2 separate regions of the Homo sapiens genome follow, and region 1 is linked to region 2. Evidence: fine-mapped expression QTL. A gene starts in region 2. The other region holds a variant in brackets. All regions are shown on one strand. Distances are from middle to middle. Region 1 holds the start of LOC101928044 (zinc finger CCHC domain-containing protein 9-like). Region 2 holds the start of C1QBP (complement C1q binding protein).

The links. PIP is the estimated chance that this variant, and not a neighbour inherited with it, causes the effect.
Region 1: its variant is fine-mapped to the expression of C1QBP in whole blood (INTERVAL, PIP 0.93).

The regions. Positions count from the first base shown.
Region 1 is chr17:5,504,459-5,517,125 of GRCh38, forward strand. NLRP1 (NLR family pyrin domain containing 1) reads right to left here. Exons shown (of 17, transcript NM_033004.4): 16 at 11,015-11,059; 17 at 9,660-10,615. The coding sequence ends at 10,296. LOC101928044 (zinc finger CCHC domain-containing protein 9-like) reads right to left here and starts at 8,268. Exons shown (of 1, transcript XM_047437231.1): 1 at 7,494-8,268. The coding sequence starts at 8,169. The coding sequence ends at 7,582. It also overlaps the pseudogene RNU7-31P. RefSeq lists a silencer at 11,720-11,908. The variant C/T (reference allele first, on the strand shown) is at 6,444.
Region 2 is chr17:5,433,365-5,446,031 of GRCh38, forward strand. C1QBP (complement C1q binding protein) reads right to left here and starts at 5,791. Exons shown (of 6, transcript NM_001212.4): 1 at 5,478-5,791; 2 at 4,759-4,909; 3 at 1,509-1,602; 4 at 305-403; 5 at 1-51. The coding sequence starts at 5,709. DHX33 (DEAH-box helicase 33) reads right to left here. Exons shown (of 12, transcript NM_020162.4): 12 at 7,553-11,149. The coding sequence ends at 10,841. RefSeq lists silencers at 5,458-5,507, 5,618-5,787, 5,766-5,948 and an enhancer at 6,008-6,187.

The DNA.
Region 1 (12,667 bases), 71 kb after region 2:
AGAATACAAAAATTAGCCGGGCATAGTGGCACATGCCTGTAATCCCAGCTACTTGGGAGGCTGAGGCACGAGAATCGCTTGAACCCAGGAGGCGGAGGTTGCAGTGAGCTGAGATCACACCACTGCACACCAGCCTGGGTGATAGACTGAGACTCTGTCTCAAAAAAATTAGAATAGAATAGAATAGAATAGAATAGAATAAAACACTGACTGCTGGGGTTCTAACCCACATCTCTCTGACCCAAGGGTAAGAGGTATACCTCCCAATCCCCTCAGCTACCCACCCCAGGCTTGCTCACCATCAAAGACTGTGCCCTGTTAGCCTTTCCCAGGCCGCATTCTGGGCCTCACCCTGCAGCAAAACAGACTTGTTCCCTTTAGAATGTGTACACAGAGCAAGAGGCAAAATTCACAAAGGCCACTTTTAGCTCGAAGTGTTCATGCCCAGCTGAGGAAACAGGCTTTGGTGGTGGTGGTGGTGGTGGGGTGTATGTGTCAGTGGGTGGGTGGGAGAGAAGGACCTTCTGGGAATCTCTGCTGCCTGGGCTATAGCTATTTGTTATCCTGGAAACCATGGCTGCCGAATTCCTCTCCTGCCAACTTCTAATTTATATGCGTGCCCTGGCTGGGAGAAGGGAAGTCAAGCCAGGAATCTCCCCTTTCCACAGGTCCTCTACCCAAACCCACAGTTGATGGGAAACCTGCAAGTGTATTGCAACCTCTACACTAGGATGTGCCTGGATAAGCCTAGTCACCTGCTGAAGGTGCTGTGGCACTTCTAGCCCAATGCAGGGTCAGCTGCCTGCCCCACCCTGAGAGGCTTCTGGGAGCTCACATCCAATGCTGATCATCCCCGTGCTCCACTCAATCCCCTGCTGGGGTTAGGGGTAGCAATGGTTGCTGAGCAAGGCAGAGAAGGGGAGGCTGAGTAAAGCCTGGGGCTCCACGGGGCAGACAGTGGGAAGCTAAGAACCTGTCTGGGCGCTGTGAGGTGGCACCTGGCAGGTGGGATTCCACATGAGCTGTGGCTCCAAGCCCCCCTACCCTCCCTTCCTGCCCCTATGCATGCTCCAGGTCCCATCAAACTTCACTTACAAAGCACAAATTCAAAGATACAATTATTAAGAGTTTCAAGGCACTGACTGCCACGCATTAAACCCCAAGCATGGGGGCCTACTGCCATTGCACAGGTTGCACTTCCAGGAAGCTGGCCCTACTCACACCCTATCGCAGGCCCAGTTTAGCCTAGCTGGGCACTGATTGCTTCTTCCTGGTCGTTGGTGAGGTTCTACATCAAATGATTAGCTTTCCACAGTGGGTTTTCTCCCACTAGAGAGAACTTAGCGCTTCCAGCATCTCAGCTTCATTCCAGGGCCTAGCAGAGCTCACCACTCTGGACATTTTCATCCTCTTCCCCGTTTTCTTTCACACACACAGACCTCTGCTCTCTACATATGATCTTCCTCAGAGAGAATAGATTTGGTTACTTTTGTTCTGTCCTCTTCTCTTTGTGCCGCTCCTATAGAACAAAAATCATCAAACAGGGCCAGGTGTGGTGGCTCATGTCTGTAATCCCAGCACTTTGGGAGGCGGATGAGGGTGGATCGCCTGAGGTCAGGAGTTCGAGACCAGCCTGACCAACATGGTGAAACCCCGTCTCTATTCAAAATACAAAATTAGCTGGGCATGGGGGTGGGCGCCTGTAATCACGGCTACCCGAGAGGCTGAGGCAGGAGAATCGCTGGAACTTAAGAGGTGGAGGTTGCAGTGAGCCGAGATGGCACCATTGCACTCCAGTCTGGGCAACAAGAACAAAAGTCTGTCTCAAAAAAAAAAAAAAAAATCATCAAACAGCCAATTCAGCAACATCATTCTTCTCCTTCCATTACTCTATCCACCCAGAAGCTGACCCACACTAAATGGTTAAGAACTGTGAGGATAATCCAGCAATTCCCCTGCTGGGTATATACCCAAAAGAGTTGAAAACAAGGTTTCAAAGAGATATCTGTACACCTATGTTCATGGCAGCATTACTCACAATAGCCGAAAGGTGGAAGCAACACACGTGTCCATCAACAGATGAACAGATAACCAAAATGTGGCATAGACATACAATGGGATGTTTTCCAACATTAAAAGGAAGGAAATTCTGGCTGGGTGAGGTGGCTCCCGCCTGTAATCCCAGCACTTTGGGAAGCCGAGGCGGGAGGATCACCTGAGGTCAGGAGTTTGAGACCAGCCTGGCCAACATGGTGAAACCCCAGCTCTACTAAAAATACAAAAAAAAAAAAAAATTAGCTGGGCATGATGGTCGACACCTGTAATCCCAGCTACTTGGGAGGCTGAGGCAGGAGAATGGCTTGAGCCCGGGTGGTGGAGGTTGCAGTAAGCTGAGACTGCACCACTGCACTCCAGCCTGGGCAACAAGAGCAAAACTCCATCTCAAAAAAAAAAAAAAAAAAAAAAAAATTCTGACACATGCAATACCATGGATAAACCTTGAACACTTTGTGATAAGTGAAAGAAGCAAGCACAAAAGGACAATGATTGTATGATTCCACTTATATAAGGTTTCTAGAGTGGTCAAATTTAAAGAGACAGAAAGTAGAATAGTGGTTCCCAGGGGCTGAAAGGAGGCAGGAATGGGGAATTATTATTTAATGGGTACATAATTTCAATTAAGGAAGATGAAAAAATTCTGGAGATGGACAGTGGTGATCGTTGCACGTCGAGGTGAATGTGCTTACACTTAAAAATGGTTGTAATCATAAACTATATTATAGATATATTCAACTAAAATAATGAAAAAATAACTGTGAGGACATTTTGTTCTCCCTCAAACTGTCTTCAAATAAATTAAATTAATTAAATTAAATTAAATTAAAGGTCTTCAAATTAAGGCCTTCTAAAATCAAAAGAAAACAAAAACCAGCCATTAAAGAATCAAGAAATTCAGCCGGGCATGGTGGCTCAAGCCTGTAACTCCAACACTCTGGGAGGCCGAGGTGGGCAGATTGCTTGAGTCCAGGAGTTCCAGACGAGCCTGGGCAACATGGTGAAACCCTGCCTCTACTAAAACTACAAAAATTGGCTGGGTGTTGTGGCTCACGCCTGTAATCCCACTGGGAGGCCGAGGCGGGTAGATCACGAGGTCAGGAGATCGAGTCCATCCTGGCTAACACAGTGAAACCCCGTCTCTATTAAAGATACAAAAAATTATCCAGGCATGGTGGCACGTGCCTGTAGTCCCAGTTACTGGAAACTCAGGAGGCTGAGGCAGGAGAATCGCTTGAACTCGGGAGGCGGGGGTTGTAGTGAGCCGAGATTGCGCCACTGCACCCCAACCTGGGCAACAAAGCGAGACTCCGTCTCAAAAAAGAAAAAAATTAGCCAGCGGCCAGGCGCAGTGGCTCACACCTGTAATCCCAGCACTTCGGGAGGCTTAGGTGGGCGGATCACAAGGTCAGGAGTTCGAGACCAGCCTGGCCAACATGGTGAAACCCCATCTCTACTAAAAATACAAAAATTAGCCAGGCGTGGTGGCGCACGCCTGTAATCCTAGCTACTCAGGAGGCTGAGGCAGGAGAATTGCTTGAACCATGGAGGCGGAGGTTGCGGTGAGCTGACATCGTGTCATTGCACTCCAGCCTGGGGGACAGAGCGAGACTCGGTCTCAGAAAAAAAAAAAAATTAGCTGGGTATGGTGGTGTGCACCTGTAATCCCAGCTACTGAGATGGCTGAGGCAGGAGAATCACTTGAACCTAGGAGGCCGAGGTTGCAGTGAGCTGAGATTGCGCCACTGCACTCCAGCCTGGGTGACCGAACGAGACTCTGTCTCAAAAGAAAAATAAAAATTAAAATAAATTTGTTTTGTAGAGACAGAGTCTTGCTATGTTGCCTAGGCTGGCCTTGAACTCCTGGCCTCAAGTGATCCTCCTTCTTGGCTTCTTAAAGTGTGAGAATTACAGGCTTGAGCCACTGCACCCAGCATGAGGGAAGCTATTGCAAAATATAGAAAGTCATGAGACTATTTATGCCCTTTGATACTATCCCTTAGTATTGACTTCAAGACAGTGATCTAAAGGATAACGAAAAGCTCTCTGCAGAAAGACGTGTATTGCAGTACTGCTTATTGTGGCAAAAAATTGGAAGCAAACTCAATGTCAGAACAAGAGGAGAATAGTTAAGTAAATGATATATCTACTGCAAGGAGTCATGCAGGGGAAGATTATCCTGAAAACTCTTAAGTAGCTTGAGGGATGCTTGTGATGATCTAAATCAAAGTCAAAAAAACAAGGTTTAAAACCCCATGTACTAGGATGATAACAAGATGAAAATGTGTTCCTGCAGAGAAAGACTGGAATGGAAAGAGGAAAGACAGAATTTTTGTATTGTTTGGATAATGAGATCATGGGGTGACTTCTTTCTCATTTGACCAGAACTTGTGCACCATGGTTATATTAGTTTCTGTGCAACAAGGCCAAAAAAATCTAAGTAATGGACCCAGTGGCCATTTTCAGGATTAACAATACTCTGTGATGGTCTGATTCATGCCCACGCAGACAAAGGTCCTTACCTAACCGCCTAGATGGCCCCGCATTGCCTAGCAACTACCTGCTTAACAGCAGTTGCTAGGAAACCAAGAACACAGCAGGACTCCTGACCAATAGCACAGCGTCCATACTACTGCTAGACTTCCCTTCAAGTTCTCTCCAACAGTCATGCTCCTGTCTAGCCTTTCCTCTTCTTCTCCTATTCTCCTCCTTCTCATTCCTACCTGCCTGGGGCTAACCTGTGAGTAGCACTCAATGGGGTCCCCACAATCATACAACCTGACACAACACAGGTAATCACAGGTTCCAGAGGACCTTCTTCCTTCCCCTGCTTCCTTCTTGCTCCAGGACTGGGGCCTGGACCAGAGTGTGTGCATGGCTCAAAGTTTAAATCTGTAGTTATCCCACCATTGAGACAAGTATTGCTCATGGCCTCTATCGGATTCTAGCACCTGGCAAATCCTACTCCTTGGGAGAGTGACTCCTTCAGGAAAGGCATTAAGCTCAGCCCAGGGCTCCCACCATCCATCAGAGTGCCTGGTGGAAGCATTCCATGATTCTTCCGTTTTTCTGAGATGGAGTCTCACTCTTGTTGCCTACACTGGAGTACAATGGCGTGATCTCGGCTCACTGCATGAGCCAGCACGCCCAGCTCATTTTGTTTGTATTTTTAGTAGAGATGGGGTTTTGCTATGTTGGCCAGGCCGGTCTCAAACTCCTGACTTGAGGTGATTCATCCGTCTCAGCCTCCCAAAGTGTTGAGATTACAGGCGTGAGTCACCTCGCCCAGCCAAATCCATGATTCTTGAATGCATTCTTTGACAGGGGTCCCTGTTCCAAGTGGCCCACTTTAAAGAGAAAGAAAACTTCATGTAGGGTGGATTAGTCTGAACACAGTGATCCTGGAAGACTCCAATTTTCCACCATTGTTGAGAATGATCCCTGCTGCCCTGCACTTCTCATTCCCATCATCTCCATGTGCTGTTCAACCGTCACATCCATTCTGAGGAAGTTGCCATCTATCTCTATTCAAAAAGATCTTTCTTCTATTCTTCTTCTTCTTTTTTTTTTTTAAATAGAGACAGTGTCTCACTATGCTGCCCAGGCTGGTCTCAAACTCCTGGACTCAAGCAATTCATTGGCCTCAGCCTCCCAAAGTGCTAGGATTATAGGTAAGCACCCAGCCAATTATTTTTATTTAGAGACAGGATCTTGCTCTGTCTCCAGGGCTGGAGTGCAGTGGCATGATTATGGCTCACTGGAGCCTAGGCTCAAGGGACCCTTCTGCCTCAGCCTCCAGAGTATCTGGGAATACAGGCATGTACCACGATGCCCGGCTAATTAAAAAAACTGGTTTTTTTTTTTGAGATAGAGGCTCGCTCTGTTGCCCAGGCTGGAGGGCAATGGCGTGATCTCGGCTCACTGCAACCTGTGCCTCCCACGTACAAGCAATTCTGCTGCCTCAGCCTCCCGAGTAGCTGGGGTTACAGGCACCTGCCATCATGCCCAGCTAATTTTTGTATTTTTGTAGAGACAGAGTTTCACCATGTTGGCCAGGCTGGTCTTGAACTCTTAAACTCTTAACCTCAGGTGATCCGTCCGCCTTGACATCCCAAAGTGCTAGGATTACAGGCATGAGCCACTGCATCTGGCCAAAAAAATGAAAAAAAATTTTTTTTTTTAAGAGACGGGGTCTTGCTATGTTGCCCAGGCTGGTCTTGAACTCCTGGTCTCAAACTCCTGGTCTCAATAGATCTTCAGGCCTTCGCCTCTCAAAGTGCTGGGATTACAGACATGGGTGCGTATTTCGTATCTCCTTGCCACTAGAATATAAATTGCTTGAGAATAGATACTCTGGCCTCTGTTATCACTGGCACCTACAACAGCCT[C/T]AGGCTCAAAGAAGCTAAGATTTACTGTCTGCCTAGTGTTGTGTACCAGCTCGCCCAGAACAACTTCCCACTCATGAGCTCACCTAGTCAAACAACCGTTTGACGCAAGCTTTGCTATTCCCTTCTTACACATCTGAAAACCTGTTTCAAGATCACACATCTAATGGGTGGTAGAGCCAAGAATTTGATTCCCAGCTCACTGCCTGTCCCTCAGAATTCTAGCTGTTGCTATTAGAATCCAGATCCAGGCCGGGCACGGTGGCTCACACTTGTAATCCCAGCACTTTAGGAGGCCGAGGCGGGCGGATCACTTGATGCCAGGAGTTCGAGACCAGCCTGGCCAACATGGTGAAACCCCGTCTCTACTAAAAATACAAAAATTTATCCGGGTGTGGTGGTGGGCGCCTGTAATCCCAGCTACTCGGGAGGCTGAGGCAGGAGAATCGTTTGAACCCGGGAGGTGGAGGTTGCAGTGAGTGCAGTGAGCTGAGATTGCGCCACTGCACTCCAGCCTGGGCGACAGAGCGAGCCTCCGTCTAAAAAAAAAAAAGAGAATCTGGATCCAAAGCGGACATGCATGTGTGTCTCCCCCATCCCCACACACTTGTTTGTGTCTGGCCTTTCTCCTACTCCAAGACTGGCTCCACTTCGGGGCTCGCTGCCATGGAGACGACTCCAGATTTAGGAATACATTTCCTAGGCTTCCGGCAACTAACGTGAGGACTTGCTGGGATGAGGGACGGGGAGGTCTGCAGAAGGAGGCGGGGCATGCGGGGGTTGCGGGGCTTAGAGGGTTGGCGGAGCCCCTCCTCGCGTAGGTCCTTCCTTCTTTCCCTCCCTCCCTTTCTCTTTTCTTTTTCTTTCTCTTTCTCTTTCTTCTTTCTTTCTCTTTCCTTTCTCTCTTTCCTTCCTTCCTTCCTCTTTTTCTTCATTCCTTCCTCTTCCTCTTTCTCTTCCTTTTTCTTTCTCTCTCTTCTTTCTTCTTTCTCTCTGTTGAAAATTGTTTTTGACCACACCCAGATCATACTGATATTTACAGTATAGTCCTGGCTACAAGGGAGCCCAGCTGTAACTTGTGAAGTGGGCCTGGTTTAGAAAGTAACAATGAGGTGGTAACTAATGACAGTACTAGTTGTTATCAAAAATTAACACCTTTAGGTATTTTTGTTTTGGGTTTTTGTGGTTTTGGTGCATCCACAATGTCTTCATAGTCTGCACTTATTCCCTTTGCCCACAGACCAACTGTGGCCATTCGATCTGAATTCTCACTTTCAGGGCAATCTTTCTTTAAATGTTCCACAGAGCCATGAAGTTGGCAACCACTACCATCAGCATAGAGTCCTTTGGGATTATCAGGACAAGATCTAGACAGGTGCCCCATTTCTCCACAGACAAAACATTCTGCAAAAGGACATTCGCCAAGAGGCGGGTCTACTTTAGCCTTACACTTGGTTATTTCGTGATCTGTGGACCCACACTTGTAACATCTTCTAGTGCCCATATCTTGATTTTCAAGGGCGGCAGGGCAATCCGCAATTCCACGACCAGGTTTTCTACAATGGAAACACACCATTGCATTTTTCTTTGCCCCTTGTCTTTTAAATCTTCTTACTTCCCATTGACTGTCCTCTTGGAGGAAGGGTTGTGTGGAGAGTGGAGGTCTGCATGTGGTAAAGGAGATGGGTGGGTGGGGCGTGAAGGACCCGAAAGACAAGGCCAGTCTCATGGGTGTGTGACCTGTGCGGTCACACAGAGCCCTGAGCTCAGCAGGGCCTGGCGCTTGATTTCATGTTCTGTTGTCACCGTCTTGACATTCTTATCATTTTTGAACGAGGGGCCCTGTGTTTCCATTTTGCACTGGGTCCCACAACTGCTGGAGCTGGTCCTACAGGAGGGTGAAAATTAGCATATAATGAGCAGTGAGGACAACCAGGAGTCCCTTTCATTGCCATCTTGGCTTTGGTGGGCTTTGGCCAGCTTCTTTACCGCATCTTATCAGTGGAGTCTTTGTGACCTGCATCTTGTGAAGCCAGTCCTGCCCACCTCCTGTGTCACCCCCAGCTTAGAGATCTGCATACAGTAAAATTACTACTAGCTTTCTCCTGAGGCCCTGCAAGCTAAAGCTTATACCTTGTGATACAGGCGTGTCAGATTGCCACCACTTTCCTGCTTTATAACTAAAGATGCTTTTGAGTCTAATACCTGGATAGACTGTGTCCAGCATTAACCTTTTTTTCTTCTGTTCTCATAAAAATCTCTCTTATTAAAAATCTGTTTGGCTTTGTATTTCAGACAACAGAAGACTAGTTTTCCAGCCTATTCACTTAGATTCCAAATGGCATCTGATCTCTTATTTTTTTCTTTCTTATTTTTTTAAAGAGACAAAGTCTATGTTGCCCGGGCTAGTCTCAAAAGCCTGAGCTCAAGTGATCCTCCTGCCTTGGCCTCCCAAAGTGTTAAGATTACATGCATGAGCCACCATGCTTGGCTTTGATCTCTTCTTTAAAACTGGGCTTAAGTATTTTATGAATTATCACTAGGTGCTATTTGATTTTAAAAATATTTGTTATATTCATCAGGTGTTCGGACGGTTCAAGTTTATGTCTTCCAGGCTACAACAGTTTCAGAGAAAAATAATTAGTCCAGTGTTCCAGCCTGTGCCACTGCAGAAAAGATGGAGTCCCTATAAGTCATTCGATCAGGTACGAAGACATTTCTATGCCTCCAGAGCAGGTAGGGATGATGGCCCCTGTTCAGCATGAAGCAGTGACAGAAGATAGATCTCTGTCCTTCTACAACCTCTTAAGATTAAGGACGAGTATGTAATGTCTGAGGTGGGGATAAGATAGGAGGTTGGCAGGACTGGTTTCACAAAGACTCCTCGTATAAAACAGGATGTGGTAAAGAAGCCAAAACCCATCAAACCAAGATGGTGATGAAAGGGACCTCCGGTTGTCCTCGCTGCTCATTATATGCTAATTTTAATACATTAGCATACTAAAAGACATTCCCACCAGCGCCATGACAGTTTACGAACGCCATGGCAGCATCTGGAAGTTTCCCTAAGTAGTCTGAAAGGGGGAAGAACCTTCAGTTCCAGGAATTCCCACCCCTTTCTCTGGAAAACTCATGAATAATCCACTCCTTGTTTAGCACACGATCAAGAAATAACCACAAAAATAGCCAACCAGCAGCCAGTCGGGACTGCTGTGCCTATGGAGTAGGTAACTTCTTATTCCTTTATTTTCATTTTTTCTTTTTTGTATTTTTTTAATTCTTAAATTTAAGTAAAAAATTTTTAATTTATAGGGGTTTTCTGGTAAAAACTGGAAAGCCTGCTAGACAAATTCTAAAAGAGCTGTGATACTCCTTTATTTTCTGAATAAACTTCCTTCCACTTTACTCTGTTGGCTTGCTCTTGTAGATCTTCCTGTACAAAGCCAAGAATCCACGTGGCCTCCCACGCTGAACCCCAATTTTGGGGCTCACCCTGTGACACAGCCAGAGGCAAATGGTTCCATGTCCCTCCTATTCCTCTTTGCGCCTGGATGGGATCCGGAGGGCTCTAGGCTTGGCTGCTGTGGCCACCAGATGAGGCTCTATGAGGTCTGCAGGGGTCTTGCCAGCTCCAGATGGACATTCCCTGAGATGCTGTTAGGCCACCTGGACTGGGGCCCCCTGTGGCATCCCTGGCATGGACACATAATGCCCAGCAAAGGCATCATCAAAGTTCCATTACTTTAGTGCTGGAAGGCAAACCAGATGGCAACTTGTTTGCAGAGAAAGAAACTGAGACCCAAAGAAGGGTCAGCCAAAGCCAGGACTCAAGGGTCAAGGGCTGGTGTTGATACTTCAGCTGCTGAGTGGCAGGAGTCCCTTTTTGCTGCCCTTCTCCCAGAGTTCCATAATGAGGTGAGGATGGGTCTCCTTCAGGGCTTGGTAGAGTCCATCTTTGCACTTCCGGTCCCAGGACTGGCTCAAGCTGAACAGCTTCCGCATCTGGCTGGGCCTCGTGTTCTCAGCCAGCACCCTCTCGTACTGCTCCTGGCTCAGCACCTGTCCATGCAGTTTGTCCAAGACAACCTCCACCGATGTCACTCGGGCTATCAGCTGCTCTCGATACTGGTCCACAAAGTGCAGCAACTGCGGGGCATCCAGAGGTGAAGGTACGGCTGGCAACGAACAAAGAAGGGCTCCAACCACAGCCTCCACCTCCAATCCCCACCTTCAGTGCTTTCCTCTCTCATCTCTGCATCCCTCGCTTCCTTCTGCCTCCAGAAATGCACCTGTGTCCTCCCTCATGGCAGCATCTAGCTTGGCATTCTGCCAGAGTGGGGATCGGGAGTGGGGTTCCTGCTGGGCACATTGGAGGCTGTCAGATAAGGAATTCTAGGGTCTCTGTGGATAGGACAAGGGGGTATGGGGAGCGACCATGCACCGCTCTCCAGGGCCTGACTCTTTGTGAGGTTTGCAGTGATGAGTCCCTTCCTTTCTCTCTTCCCTTCCCCCAGAACCAGACAGTACCCCAGAACTGCCACCGCCTCCTGTGGTCTCTGAGAGCTGTTACTGACCTATGCGGGCTGGAGGGATCAGAGTAGTTGCAGGCATGAGATCTCCTGGAGGAAAACAGAGATGAAGATGCATCTGAAACAGTGCTAAGTTATTAACACACATGGTACACCTCCAAGCTCCCACTCACTTCTGAGATTCTTTGATTTAGAAAAAAGCCACAGACAAATTCTGGTAGAATCTGGAGTAAGAGCTGGAAGGGTCCTTAGAGGTTATTTAGGTGAATCCCTTCCTTATGCATATGGGGAAACTGAGGCTCAGAAGCTGTGATCATACAGTAATAGAAGACATCCAAATGAGCGATAGCAATTTCTCCTATAACATCCCAGACTTGGTTTTAATCCCGTGTTGGCCTGAATTGTATCCCTGGTGAACTAACCAAACCCCTTGCTAGATAGCTTGAACTATTTAGCACCTCCTTGTCTGAGCAGAAATCTACTTCCTTGTTCTTGTTTAGCCTTCTAGACTGGCACCAACCAAAGGTGTACGTTCTGGATTTGGATGTCAGAATCTAGAATCAAGATCAAGCAATCTTAGGACATGGGAATAACAAATTAATTTTAACAGAAAAAACAGACAACGACAAAAATGAAGGGACTTAAAAATTGCTTTGCAAAGGAGAGAAAGGGGAAGTTCACAGCAGCTCGCATGTACAAGGCCTGAGAGTCTGAGCAGGCTCTAAGTTCAGTGTGATCTCACAGTTCAGGGAGGTGGGCACAGGGGAGGGAGTTCAGGTTGTGGTACCAGGAGCACCGGGTCCATGTAGGTGGAGAAAGGAGGGTGTTTACATGCTCTCTGCTGACTGGACAGTCCAGGGGTCAATTCTGACTCATTCCCACACTGGAGCATCTACTGAGGGAGGTGACTGGATGGCAAAGAATTTACAAACCAAAATAGAAGAGGAATGATGGAAGGAGCTGAGATGTCTAACTTGCATAACAAGAGTCATCAGGAATGCTATGACCACAGTCTTTGAGAATCTAAATGGCTTTTTAGATTTAAGGGGAAGGAGATAGACTTTTTCTATGAGTTCCAAGGGACAGAATTAAGACTGATAAGAGGCAGAGATTGGCTTAACATGAGGAAAAAGATAACATTGCTACGATTTGTTAAGGATTACTGCATGAGGCATGTATAGACATCGCTTTGTTTAATCTTTCCAGCATTCCTACAAATTAGTCATTATGATCCTCTTTTTACAGACGAGGGACTCAAATGAATTAAGTAATTTTCCCAAGGTCACTCAGCAAGTAAGTGCCAGAGTGGGATTTGAATCCAGGTCTGAAGCTGGGGCTGGTTAGTTCTCCATCTGTGGTTGCACCCAAGCCAGGATTCAGTAAAGCCCATCCTCTTTCCACTACACTGTGAAGCCAGCTTGTTGCAGCTCAGAGGTAGATTCACCATTTTTTGAGAGCTGACTAGGGATGGTTGTCCTAGAAGGACTGTTTGGGGGTTTGGGTTCTTAGATTGTTGGTACTAGACTAAGAGTCCATAAATTTTCTCTATCCCAGAAAATTTATTATTTGATTTCCTCTTGCCTACCTCAAAAATACTGAGCGATACAGGGGAGAGTATCTGAAATTGCCAAATCGGTTTAACCCATACGACCATATGACTATCTAGGTCTTATTCTTCCACCTCACACCCAAACTATC
Region 2 (12,667 bases):
AACTTCCCTGATAGAGAAGATGTCACTCTCAGCCTCGTCTTCTTGTCCAACCTGAGAAGAAACAATATTGGGAAACTGAAGGGTTCTCCAGGACAAGCTAGACTCAGGGGAAGAAAGGGGGCCACTGACAGCATGAAACTCATCAGGTTTTAACCCTCTTCCCTCACTCCCCACCTCTCTCCCCCTGCTGGGCTGGTCTAAGCTAGAAAAGTGTTTAAATTTCTGCTAAAATAGGGACAGGAAGTTCCCAAGGGACACACTGTTCCCCAGGGGTGCCAAGAGGCTAGCACTCCATCCTGCATACCTCATCCTCTGGATAATGACAGTCCAACACAAGGGCCTTCTTGCCATCATCATTCTTTATAACTTCAACCACGAAATTGGGAGTTGATGTCAGTTCAGGCTGGGGAAACAAGAAGTCAATACATGCTGCTGCTGGAAGGAGATGGATGGCTGGATCAAGGATCTCTGTTCAGAGTGTCTGATGGCCACCACTATTAGGATATTATGTAGCCATTTGAATAGTCTTATGCCATACTATTCCCAAATGAAGAGCTTGATCTCACTTCTGTTGGCACCCTGCTTGGTTAAATAACACACTGGGTTTTCAGTTAAGAAATGTGGATACCAGCCTCAGCTATGTGCCAATTAACTGAGTTTATATCAGTCCCTTAACATTCCAAGCCTTTTCCTCCACCCGTACACTGCAAAGCTTTCCTAAAGTTTCAAGATCTCTTTCCAGCTTGACTGTTCCAGGAGTCTTCATAAGGGACCAGGGTCAAAGGCTGGGGAACCTGGCCATCCTTATGGCTGAATAACAGCAGCAGCTTTTCCTCTGATGCGGAGCTCTGGGAGCAGACTGGGTCCAACGTCAGGGAGATGCTAGTTGGGGTGGCTGGGAAAGCAGCACACCAGAGAGCTGCGCCGTCCACACCAGGTCATGACCCAACACTGTACTGATGGCTCTTGGGCAGAATGTCTAGGGACTCTGTGGCCCTCATACTGGCTGGTTACTAGGCTGGGCACAGCACTTCCTGAAATGTTTGAAGAGTAGGCATGATCCAGTTAAAGTCTCTTATGCCCCTGCCATTCTCTCTCTCTTTTTTTTTTTTTTTTTTTTTTGAGACAGAGTCTTGCTCTGTCGCCAGGCTGGAGTGCAGTGGTGTGATCTTGGCTCACCGCAACCTCTGCCTCCCGGGTTCAAGCGATTCTCCTGCCTCAGCCTCCCGAGTAGCTGGGATTACAGGGACCTGCCACCATGCCCAGCTAATTTTTGTATTTTTAGTAGAGACGGGGTTTCACCATGTTGGCCAGGATGGTCTCGATCTCTTGACCTCGTGATCTGCCCGTCTCGGCCTCCCAAAGTGCTGGGATTATAGGCGTGAGCCATGCGACTGGACTTAGAGGAATTTTTTTTTTTTGAAAGACCAAAGAAAAACGCTCCTCCTCTAAGCCCCAGGCACAGCCTGTCAGAACTGAGGTAAAAGCTGATTATAGTATTAGCTTACCTCCTGTTCTTCAACCTTCTGCCCTTGCGAGGGTTCCTCCTCACCATCAAATGTTGGTGGGATGCTGTTGTTAATGTTGAAAGTGACCGTGATTCTAAAACGGCAAGGGAAAACAGACAAGGCAAAACAGACAAGGCATGGTTTTAACCGAGCAGGTTAACACATAAACATGGAAATCTGCTACAGTTAAAAAGGCGTATTGAAACAATGTCTCTGTCCTAGCTGGCTGAATTATATGCAGAACTTCAAACTAGGCTGGGTGCCTACATCCAATCCTGAGTGACTCAGCAGGTCTGAAGTGTGCCTACCATGTACCAGCTGCTGGAAGCCAAAGCTGGCCTCAGTTTATCTCAGCCAAACAAGTCATGCATGGGTTACTCCCAACAGGGCCAGTACCCCAGGGCTCACTGCCATGTGCTGACTGGGCATCTCATGGCCACAGCCAGCTGACACTGCCCACCCTGGTCTTTCCAGGGAACCCTTGGTCAAAGTAAGGACCTGAGAGGCTGGTGAGATGGAACAGAAGCCCCTTTAAGAGACTTTCCCCGTCAGAAAATTTGCCCTGCAAGGAAAGGAAGAAGCGATGGAGGGTGCCTCTGCTAAACACCGAGAGCAGCCCTGGAACGGGGAAGGGAATGCCTCACAAAGAACAAGGGCTGTAGTAGAGACTCATCCCTTAGAGTACTTGTGGGAAGTTTCATAATCACAAAGCAGGCCAGACACACCAACTAGTGACAATTTTAAGGTGCAAGAATCCACACCTGACAAATCATGTTCCAAAGTTTGAGTCAAAATTCTTGGGACATAAGGTTTAGAACCAAAACTGCTGGGCTATGCAACTCTGGCAGGCACCATTCCACACAAGAGTACATGAAGGCTGGGCGCAGTGGCTCACGCCTGTAATCCCAGCACTTTGGGAGGCCGAGGTGGGCAGATCACGAGGTCAAGAGATCGAGACCATCCTGGCCAACACGATGAAACTCCATCTCTACTAAAAAATACAAAAAAAAAAAAAAAAAAAAAATTAGCTGGGCGTGGTGGTACGCGCCTGTAATCCCAGCTACTCAGGAGGCTGAGGCAGGAGAATTGCTTGAACCTGGGAGGTGGAGGTTGCAGTGAGCCGAGATCACGCCACTGCTCTCCAGCCTGGAGACACAGCAAGACTCTGTCAGAAAAAAAAAAAAAAAAAAAAGAGTACATGAAGTGCCGCCCTCCACTTGTGCTAACTAGCTGCTCTGCCAGGAAGCCACCTTTCCATGGCAACAGAGGCAGTCTGAGGTTGACAAAATCTGTCTAATTCCAACTGTGCTGACTAAGCTGAGCTCCTGGGCACAGAAATTGAATGACGTTCATCAGAGCATTATTTTTAATGGCCCCCAAATAGCTATGAAAACCTTGCGCAAATGGTGTTTAGGTGAGATTACAGAAGACACAATTGACCTGTGTAGGGCAAAAACACACTATGCAACAGGCAAGAGAATCAGGACCCTACTTCACACCATATTCAAAATGAATCACAGACCTAAACTAAGAGCTAAAACTAGAAAACTTTGAAAAAATTAAGGCATACATCTTCACAACCTTGGGTTAGGCAGTGGTTTCTTAGACGTGACACTAAAAAAGCACAAGTTGCACTTGGTGAATTAGAAGCAAAGTAAAAAATAAATAAAAAAGCACAAGCGACCAAAAAAATAGGTAAACTGAACTTCCTCAAAATTAAAAACTTTTGTGTCAGAGGACATTACCAAGAAAGTGAAAAGGAAACCCACAAGATGGGAAACAGTACTTACAAATCATTAATTTGATAAGATAGTTGTACCCAGAAAAACTTAACTTTTACAACCCAACAATTAAAAAGGTAAATAGGGTGGGCAGGGTGGCTCACACCTGAAATCCCAGCACTTTGGGAGGCCAAGGCGGGCGGATCACGAGGTCAGGACTTTGAGACCAGCCTGGCCAACACGGTGAAACCCTGTCTCTACTAAAAATACAAAAATTAACCGGACGCACGCCTGTAATCCCAGCTAAGGAGGCTGAGGCAGGAGAATTGTCAGAACCTGGGAGGCAGAGGTTGCAGTGAGCCAAGATCGCACCACTGCACTCCATCCTGGGTGACAGAGCAAGACTCCGTGGGGTTGGGGGGGGAAGCTACAAATTGTATGACTCCATTTATATGAAATGTCCAAAAGAGGCAATCCCATAGAGAAAGTAGCTTAGTGATTACCTGGGGTGGCTACAGGGAGGAATAATGAGTGACTGCTAATAGGTATTGTTTGGGGATGACAACAGTGTTCTAGAATTAGGTAGTGATAACTGATGCATAATTCTGCGAGGACTAAGAACCACTTAATTTAATAAACTTCAATAAATGGGTAAATCGTATGCCATCTCAATTAAATCTCATAAAAGCTGTGATTTAAAAAAATTACATACACATCATAAGGTCAATTATGAAGGAAATTCAATTTATTTATTTATTATTGAGATGGCGTCTTGCTCTGTTGCCCAGGCTGGAGCGCGGTGGCGCGATCTCGACTCACTGCAACCTCCACCTCCCAGGTTCAAGCGATTCCCCTGCCTCAGCCTCCCGAGTAGCTGGGACTACAGGCACGTGCCACCATACCCGGTTAATTTTTACTAGAGCCAGGGTTTTAGTGTTAGCCAGGATTTTCTCCTGACCTCATGATCTGCCCGTCCCAAAGTGCTGGGATTATGGGTGTGAGCCACCGCGCCCAGGCTCAATTTAAAAACCTGGAAGATGCCAAATGTTTATCTGTGTAATGAGATTATGGATGACTATAATGCAGAAAAGTGTAAACACTTTAACAGTTTAGGAGATGATGGGGGAGCTGACTTAGGTCACAAACTCCCCACCTCTGATGGCAGCCCTTACTACAGTGTAACCCCATCCTGTTACATAGAAGTTACATATTTTTCATTTTCACCCATACTAAACATTAGAGAGCAGTGTCCTATTTTATCAGGGCTGTAAATCAGAGATCAAACTGATTCTGCCAGTACTTTTTTGCACTACATTTTTGTCTCCTTAGTAACCAGCCCACAGCAAATTTGTGTTCGGTGAATGGACTGCCTGGGGCTTACGAAGTTGTCCAAATGAATCCTTCACTCTCTTGAAACCCATTTATCAAAGTATCCACACCTGAACTCAAGGCTCTTCTGGGGATGACCCAGGATGGGTCCTGCAAGGTTAAGGGAGTTGCTGCCCTGGGATCCCCAGACCAGTACTTACTTTTCCCCGGCAACTTTCCGCACTAATTTCGCTTCTGTCCCATTCAGTTCCAGCTCCCAACCTCCAGACATCTTAGGGAGGGTTTTATGCTTCTGAATTTTTCTTTCCTCCTTAATTTCATCACTCAGGAAATCAACAAAAGCTTTGTCTCCTAGAAAAGAAATCCAGATACATAAAAAGGAAAGCCAGTTAGTCTAAAACATAAAACTATTACCCAGGTTATTGCAGCCAGAAACCTGGACTGTTTCTAATCTCTCTGCTATTACGGTTACTCTAGAAGCCTGTTTCCTTATCGGTAAAAATACCATAATAGTAGTAGGAAGCTGAGCCTGATTCTGGAAAAGTGATTTCCAACAATGAACGCATTACCACTTTCCGCTATAAACCAGGAGAATTTCCAATCCTCTTCCACTTGCCAAACGATATAACTATGCTATTTTCAACCACGACCATGGGCCTTCCCAAAGGTCCACTTTCGATAGAATAAGACTAAGGAAAAAGGTACCCTAGTATTTAATTTTATTCACCCCCTACCAAAAGAAAACGAAACTGCTGGATAGGGGAGGTGGGGGAAATATGATCATACGTGGGTTTAGCCCGCTGGTTGCCAATCAATGGAAAAATGTCCCAGACCTCAGAGGTCGGTTGCAGGCCCTATTCCTGGTCTACGTTTTCCCTCTGTTGAACGCAAACCACACCCCCGGCCCGCTAAACCTCACCGTCGGTGTGCAGCGAGCCGCAGCCACAGCCACAGGCGCAGGGTCCGCGAGGCCGCAGGAGGCCCGGCCGCCGCTCGGAACCTGCGCGCACGCTGAGCAGCCCGAAGGGCCGGGTGCACAGCCGGGGTGCCGGCTGCAGGAGCTGCCGGAAAGGCGAGGCGGGCGCGGCAGCGCGGAGGCCGGCGACGGAGGAGCCCAGCACACGGGGCACGCAGCGCAGCAGAGGCAGCATCGCGGAAACGACTGCGAACACGTGCAGATGCAAAGGACAACCCAGGCCTAGGCGCCCCGCGACCTGAGGCGCCGCCGGAAGCCCCGCCCCTGCCCGGAAGCGCTTCCCGCGCCGGCGCTCTGACGACCTAAGGCCAGCGGGCGGAATCGCGCCCTCTGCTGGAGACTCCGGTGCAGCCCGGGAAGCCTCGAATCCGGATTCCGGAGCTTTCTTGCTGCGCTGCCGAGTCCGCTGTCCGAAGCTGTTTAATTCCCTCTAGTGGCCGCTTACCCACTTTCCACCTGCTGTTCTCAAAGCACGCAAGGCTTTTGGGCTGCGTGGAATGCACTCTTGTCTCCCGCCAGCTCTCACCAGACCCTTCCACGGTCACTTTCCTCTAGGAGGCTGTGGTGTTATGATATATATATGTATTGGTTTTCATCCACAGTTCCTGGGTCGTAACTCCTATAGCCCTTGTTACAATGTTCTGTGATAATGTTGGGTGTGTTAGGCCTCAGGAAACAGACTCTCCCCTTCTCCTGCCCTCCTTTTACCTGCCCCAAAGCAGGACTCTAATCTCCTTCCACATTTCTGATTATGGGTCTTAAGTCCCTTCCCAGAGAAGGTCCCACCATATACCCTGGGGGAAGGGATGCTGATGTCCAGAAGCTTCCATAAAAACCCAAGAGGAGAGGGTTTGCAGAGCCTCTGACAGCTGAATACGTAGAGGTTCCTGGAGGGTGGTGGCCCAGGGTAGGCAAGGAACCTCGGAGCTTCTTCCCCATTCCCCACCCTGCTCATCTCATCTGTATCCTTGGTCATATCCTTTATATGAAACCGGTGAATGTGTTTCCCTGAGTTCTGTGAACTGCTCCAGTGAGTTAACATAATCCAAAGAGGGGGGTCGTGGGAACCCCAACTTGAAGCGGGTTGGTCGGAAGTTTCAGAGGCCCAGACTTGCCATTGCTGTCTGAAGGTGGGGGCGGTCTTGGGGACTGAGCCCTCAACCTATGGGATCTGACACTATCTCCAGGTAGATACTGTTGGGATTGAATTGGAGGACACCCAGCTGGTGTCTGCTGCTTAGTGTGGAGGGGAAAAACCCAAACCTTTGGCCACATAAGTCTTCTGTGTTGATTGTTGTGTTGTGAGAGCAAAGGAAAGTCTGAGGGTTTTCCTGAAAGAGGCCTTCTAGAACCTTTTTTTCCACCGGCTCGGAACTCATGCTTGTGCGCACCCAGCCCATATGCTTCATTCTCTTTTCAACAGGAACCTCCTAGCGTTGCTGCTTTAACCAGGTTAAACCCAACCAGACTGTGACATCCTCAAGGGCAGGATCCATGATTAATTTTTGTGACCTTCCCTCTCTGCACCTCCAACCTTGCATCCAAGTTCTAATGGAACATCATTTTTCTGGGGACAAGAAGCCAGCTTATATCATTTAGATAAGTCCAGAGGCTTCCATAAAAACCCGAGGACAGGGTTTGGAGAGCCTCTGATAGCTAAATACATGGAGGTTCCTGGAGGGTGGTGGTCCAGGGACGGCATGGAGGCTGGGAGCTTCTTCCCCATTCCCCACCCTGCTCATCTCCTTATCTGTATCCTTGGTCATATCTTTTGTATGAAACCGGTAAATGTGTTTCCCTGAGTTCTGTGAGTTTCTCCAGTAAATTAATATAACCCAAAGACAGGGTTCAGATTTATTAAAAATCAACAATCCTACCTTCCCAGGATATACAGGACATATAAGCTACTAAGAAGGTATGTCTTACTAACTCATGGTAAGACTAACACTTAATATTTTCTAAATAATTTTCTATGAATAATGGAAAAGAGATGCAAGAAACAAGCCACACACATCATATACAAGATTCATTTTTAATGGATTTGATCGTCGGGTGCAAATTTGAGCATTATTTACAAGAGCTTTCTGTAGAGTTATTTCTGTTCAAATAAAACCAGACTCTCAAAATACAACATAAGCCTGAACCTACTTGATTTTTTTTTCTCCCTCTAGTTACCAAGGAATATCGTATCTCAGATGCATGGCCTACTATCACACTGGTCTTTAAAGAAAAAAAAAAATGCATGGCCACAGTTCCAGGCAGTTCCTGGTAGCTGGATTTAGTGGATTTATATATGACAGTACAGTACATCATCAGTTTCACCCACAGGGCAGAACTTGCCTCCATTCAGGCATCTCTTTACAACTGGCAGCAATGCAGCATTAAGGGTTTTTAGCCAGGACCTGCTGTTTGCAGTCCTGCCCCTTGTAGTGTTACTCTGGGTGTTGCACACTCCATGATTACTAGAAGACAAACACCTGAGGCATGCAATCTGCTTGGAGTGCATCTATTTACATGAAGCTGCTCACGGGAGCTGGTGATTCTTCCAGATATGGGTTTCGTAGGTTGGCAAAGAGTTATCACACCATCAGAGATTTTACCAATGGAAAGAGAGTAGCTGAAGATTATATTGCAATGTTATTGTGAAACATTTAACTTTCTTAAGTTTAAAGTGTACTATCTCCTGCAGCTCAATATAAACAACGATGTATTTCTTTGTAGCAGTATGTGGAGTCAGAATGGGTTTTCCAATCTGATTTAATCCCTGAGCAGCTATGTTAAAAGTTAACTTTTTAAAAAAGCCCAATAAAAAACTAAATACTGTATTAAAACTCTACCACAATGTTACAGGGATAAACTTATTTCTGTACAGAAACATTAAAGCTACTTAGAAGCTGTTTACATCCTTTGCCTCTCAGAAAAAAAATATACATTTCCGGAAACTGTTCAGGTACTTAAGCTGGACATAAATTACCCCAAGTTTTTTCTTTTTCTTTCTTTCTTTCTTTTTTTTTCTGAGACCGTCTCACACTGTCGGCCAGGCTGGAATGCAGTGGCGTGATCTTGGCTCACTACAAACTCTGCCTCCCAAGTTCAAGCAATTCTTGTGCCTCAGCCTCCCCGGTAGCTGGGATTACAGGCGTGTGCCACCATGCCCAGCTAAGTTTTCTATTTTTAGTAGAGACGGGGTTTTGCCATGTTGGCCAGGCTGGTCTTGAACTTCTCAAGCAATCCACCCACCTCAGCCTCCCATCCCAATGCTGGGATTACAGGCATGAGGTGATCCGCCCGCCTTGGCCTCCCAAAGTGCTGGGATTACAGGTGTGAGCCACTGCGCCCGGCCACCCCCCAATTTTTTTTTTTTTTTTTTTTTTTTTACCAGCACTATGAATGATTAAAAATACAATATTTTTCTTACTAAGTAGGACTAAACATTCTAATCCCCTACTGGAAAACAAAAAACAAAAAACAAAAACTGGAAAACTTTTCAGAAAGTCAGCAGTGGTAACAAGTCAGTAAGTGGAAGAACTGGTTCAAAGTTTAAGAATTCAGTAAGATAAGGTATATAGGAGCTGTCAGATCTTCTTTTGCCCACGTATAACCATTTCTGACAGACAGCCCTAAACACTAGCTGAGAGCTTGACTGCACAGGACCACGGCTAGTGTTGGAAATAAAGACTGAGCCGGACTTGACATACACAACTCCGGACAGATGGGACCCTGGAATGGGGCTGCTCCATCAGGCCACAGCTTCCAGAAAGAGAGCATCCATGATCTCTGAAGAGCCTCTTGGGCAGCTTGGCCCCTGGTTATAACTATGATTCATTCATTAAGAAATGACAAAACACCCCACAGATGTATTTGGACCAAGTAAGCACAATAAAAGAGCTAAATCACGGCTTCTTCTAGGGCAAAATATTATCTGGGGAAAGATTACTTGCTTCTGATAATTAAATAGCTAAGAGGAACCGTTAGTGCCTTTTCTCTGCTCAGAATATCAGAACAGGAACAGACTGTGGATATCCTCCAATTCCCTCTGACAATGAGGGTTAGAGAGAGGTGCCTAGCAGTTAGAAAGCAGCAAAGCCAGATTGTCCCAAGTCCCTACGAAGAAGGAAAAAATATCATAGAAAATTAATAAGATGCAAGAATAAGTGTTACAGCTCTAGCTCTTTTAGAATTTGTCCAGCAGGTCTTCTAGACTTCACTGAACTGCCCCCCACCCCCCCCGCCCACACACCAAAAAAGATACAAGAATGTAAGCCCAGATGTGGTGTGGTATCTGGCATAAGCCAATGTTCTCTGGGTTCTAGGTACCCCTCTCCCCTCCCCCACCCCCACCCCCTCTGACCAGGGGACTGCCCGAAAAGAAACAGCTGAAATGGTACACAGTCACTCCTCATGCCCGCATGTTCACTGGTGCCCAGTTAGAGAGAAAAATGGCAACTGTGTATGTGGGAGTCACCTACACACACAAAACACTGATAGGTCAGTTTCCCATGTCTACACGTGACAGGATTCAGAAGGTACAAATCAACCTTCACCCAGGAAGCTTACATGTCTCCTGAAAGCACTGACAGGGTCACGCACTGAGGACCAGGAGGCTCCTTTACTGGTCTCTGCTTGGAGACAGACACAGAGTGGTCCACCCTGAGACACAAGCGTTCAGTAGGGATCGCCATCCCAGGAGGTACGAGATAACAGCACCTCCCTCTGGAAACTTCTACAGAAGTCAGTTTTGTTTTCTATTTTAAAACTGCATTCAGAGAGACATTAAACAAGAACTAAGGGCAACATCCAAGCTCCGCAACCTCCTGTGGCCCTTCCAGAAAATCTCCCTCAGTCACAAGAACTTGGGATATTGCTGTACTTCACATCATATGGCAAGCAGTAACATTCAGCCTAACGGCTCCCAACTCACTGTACGTGTGTCGTGCGTGCTCCAGGCATAGTTCTGGGTACTTTCCATTCCTTTTCTCTAAACTTTATGAACCCAATTTTATAAGGATTATTATTATTACTCCCATTTGGCAGATGAGAAAACTGAGGCTCAGGTGTTAAATTAAGTCAAAGTCACCCAGTAAGAACCAAAAGCATAATTTTGAGGTTTCCAGGTACAAATGATATGTCCATGTCTATATGGTTCAGTCCCAGGAGTTGAGCAAAGATGCTTTCACGCTCCTGGAAGTCAGGCACCTTCAGCTGATTCCAAGGCTTCTCTAAGCGCCAACCTGGAAGCCTGCTGTAAGGACAACTGTAGTCCAAGCTCCCAGGGACCAGTGATTCTGGCGGCATCCTGGGGCGGCTCAGTTTCTGGCGGTTCTCAGCTTCCTCCTAAAGTACTCAGGGGCAGCCTCGTACAGCCACTGTGCATCTATGACGCAGAGGTCCCGCATGTAGCACTTGTTGGTGTAGAGCAGCTCAGTGTACACGACGCAGGCCGGCTTGCAGTGGAAGAGGACAGACGACGGGTGGATGGCCACTGGCTGGTGGGTGTCCGTGGTGGCATAGGTGCCATCTGGCTGAAGCTCGGCGGTGCTCATGAAGAGGCTGTGAGCCAGGCAGCGGCGGACACTCTCCACGTCTCCTCGGGATGATGCGATTGGCATTGACATCTGTTTCGGGAGAAAGCGAGGAATGGAGCCGACCCCACACGTAAACACTGGTCAGCACTACACAGCGTGTTGGGGCAACTGGACCCACTGGGGCAAAAGCAGCCCACATTGTGAGCCTAACGATGTGGATTCTGACATTCGGAGGTGGTCACCAAGGATCAGCAAGGTCAGGGGAAGAAGGCCCAGCTGGAGGAGCACGGACCAGAAACAGGGAAACTACCGCCTGTGAAGGTAGGGCTGGGAGGGAGGTGCTCACATTAGCCACCAGACCACAGGCAGGTTGGGTGACCCACCCCTCACCTAAATTCCATCAGGACGGCCCGGAAAGGAAAGGCCCTTCCCTCTCGCTTTGACCATCTCACCATCTCCTCACTCCGATTCACCCACCTGCTGCTGCCAAGCTAATCTACCTAAAGCACAACTCGAATCACTCTTCATCCACTCAAATACCTTCAACAATGTCTCTACTGCTCCTTGCAAAACAATGCAAACTTCCCGTGGTGAAGCCACGAAGGAGCCACCCTGAGCTGCTCGCCTGTCTTTCCTCTCACCGCTCTTTTTCTTTCTTTCTTTTTTTTTTTTTGAGGCTGAGTCTCCCTCTGTCACCCAGGCTGGAGTGCAATGGCGCAATCTCAGCTCATTGCAACCTCCACCTCCCAGGTTCAAGCTATTCTCCTGCCCTAGCCTCCCAAGTAGCTGGGATTACAGGCGCCTGCCACCACGCCTGGCTAATTTTTGTATTTTTAGTAGAAACGGGGTTTCACCATTTTGGTCAGGCTGGTCTTGAACTCCTGACCTCAAGTGATCTGCCCGCCTTGGCCTCCCAAAGTGCTGGGATTACAGGCGTGAGCCACCGCGCCCGGCCTCACCACTCTTCTTTAGACACTCCATGGTCCCCCATAGCTGGCTGCCTTCTCTTTCCTCGCCCCGTTTCATGATTCCTATCTGTGCCTTCACATTTGCTACTCTTAGTAGAAATGCTGCCTGTCTCATCAGAGGAAATGTCAGTCACCAGTCAATGTCCTTGTTCTACTGCTCTTGATGAGTGGGGCATGTAACCTACGCCCCTGGGCACAGATGAACAAACCAGTGGTACACACACGCTGGACCTAAGCTGGCCAGCTTTTCTCTTCCAGGCATCTTTTAGGTTTGAAACTGGAAAACTTGTCAATCTCTGCTGGGCTCTTGAGTGGAGGGGCCATGCAGAGAAATCACTTCCATGCGGAGGTAAAGGTGAGAAAAGGGAAGGAGGCACGCAGAGGGCACTCAAAGCAAGAGAAGCAGCAGGTCCAGAGAAAGTGGCGGGCCTGGCTCCTGCAGGCTTTTTCTGGTTCCTGTGACTCTATTTCCTGCCTATCGGTTCTCAGAGATACCTTTCCATCCTTGGAAGAATCTTTATTTTGTCCTTTATGATGGCTCTAGGGTTTCTGTTGTTGACAATCAGCTGATCTATGCCTGAAGAAGATACTTTTTTTTAAGAGACAGGGTCTCACTCTGTTGCCCAGGCTGGAGTGCAGT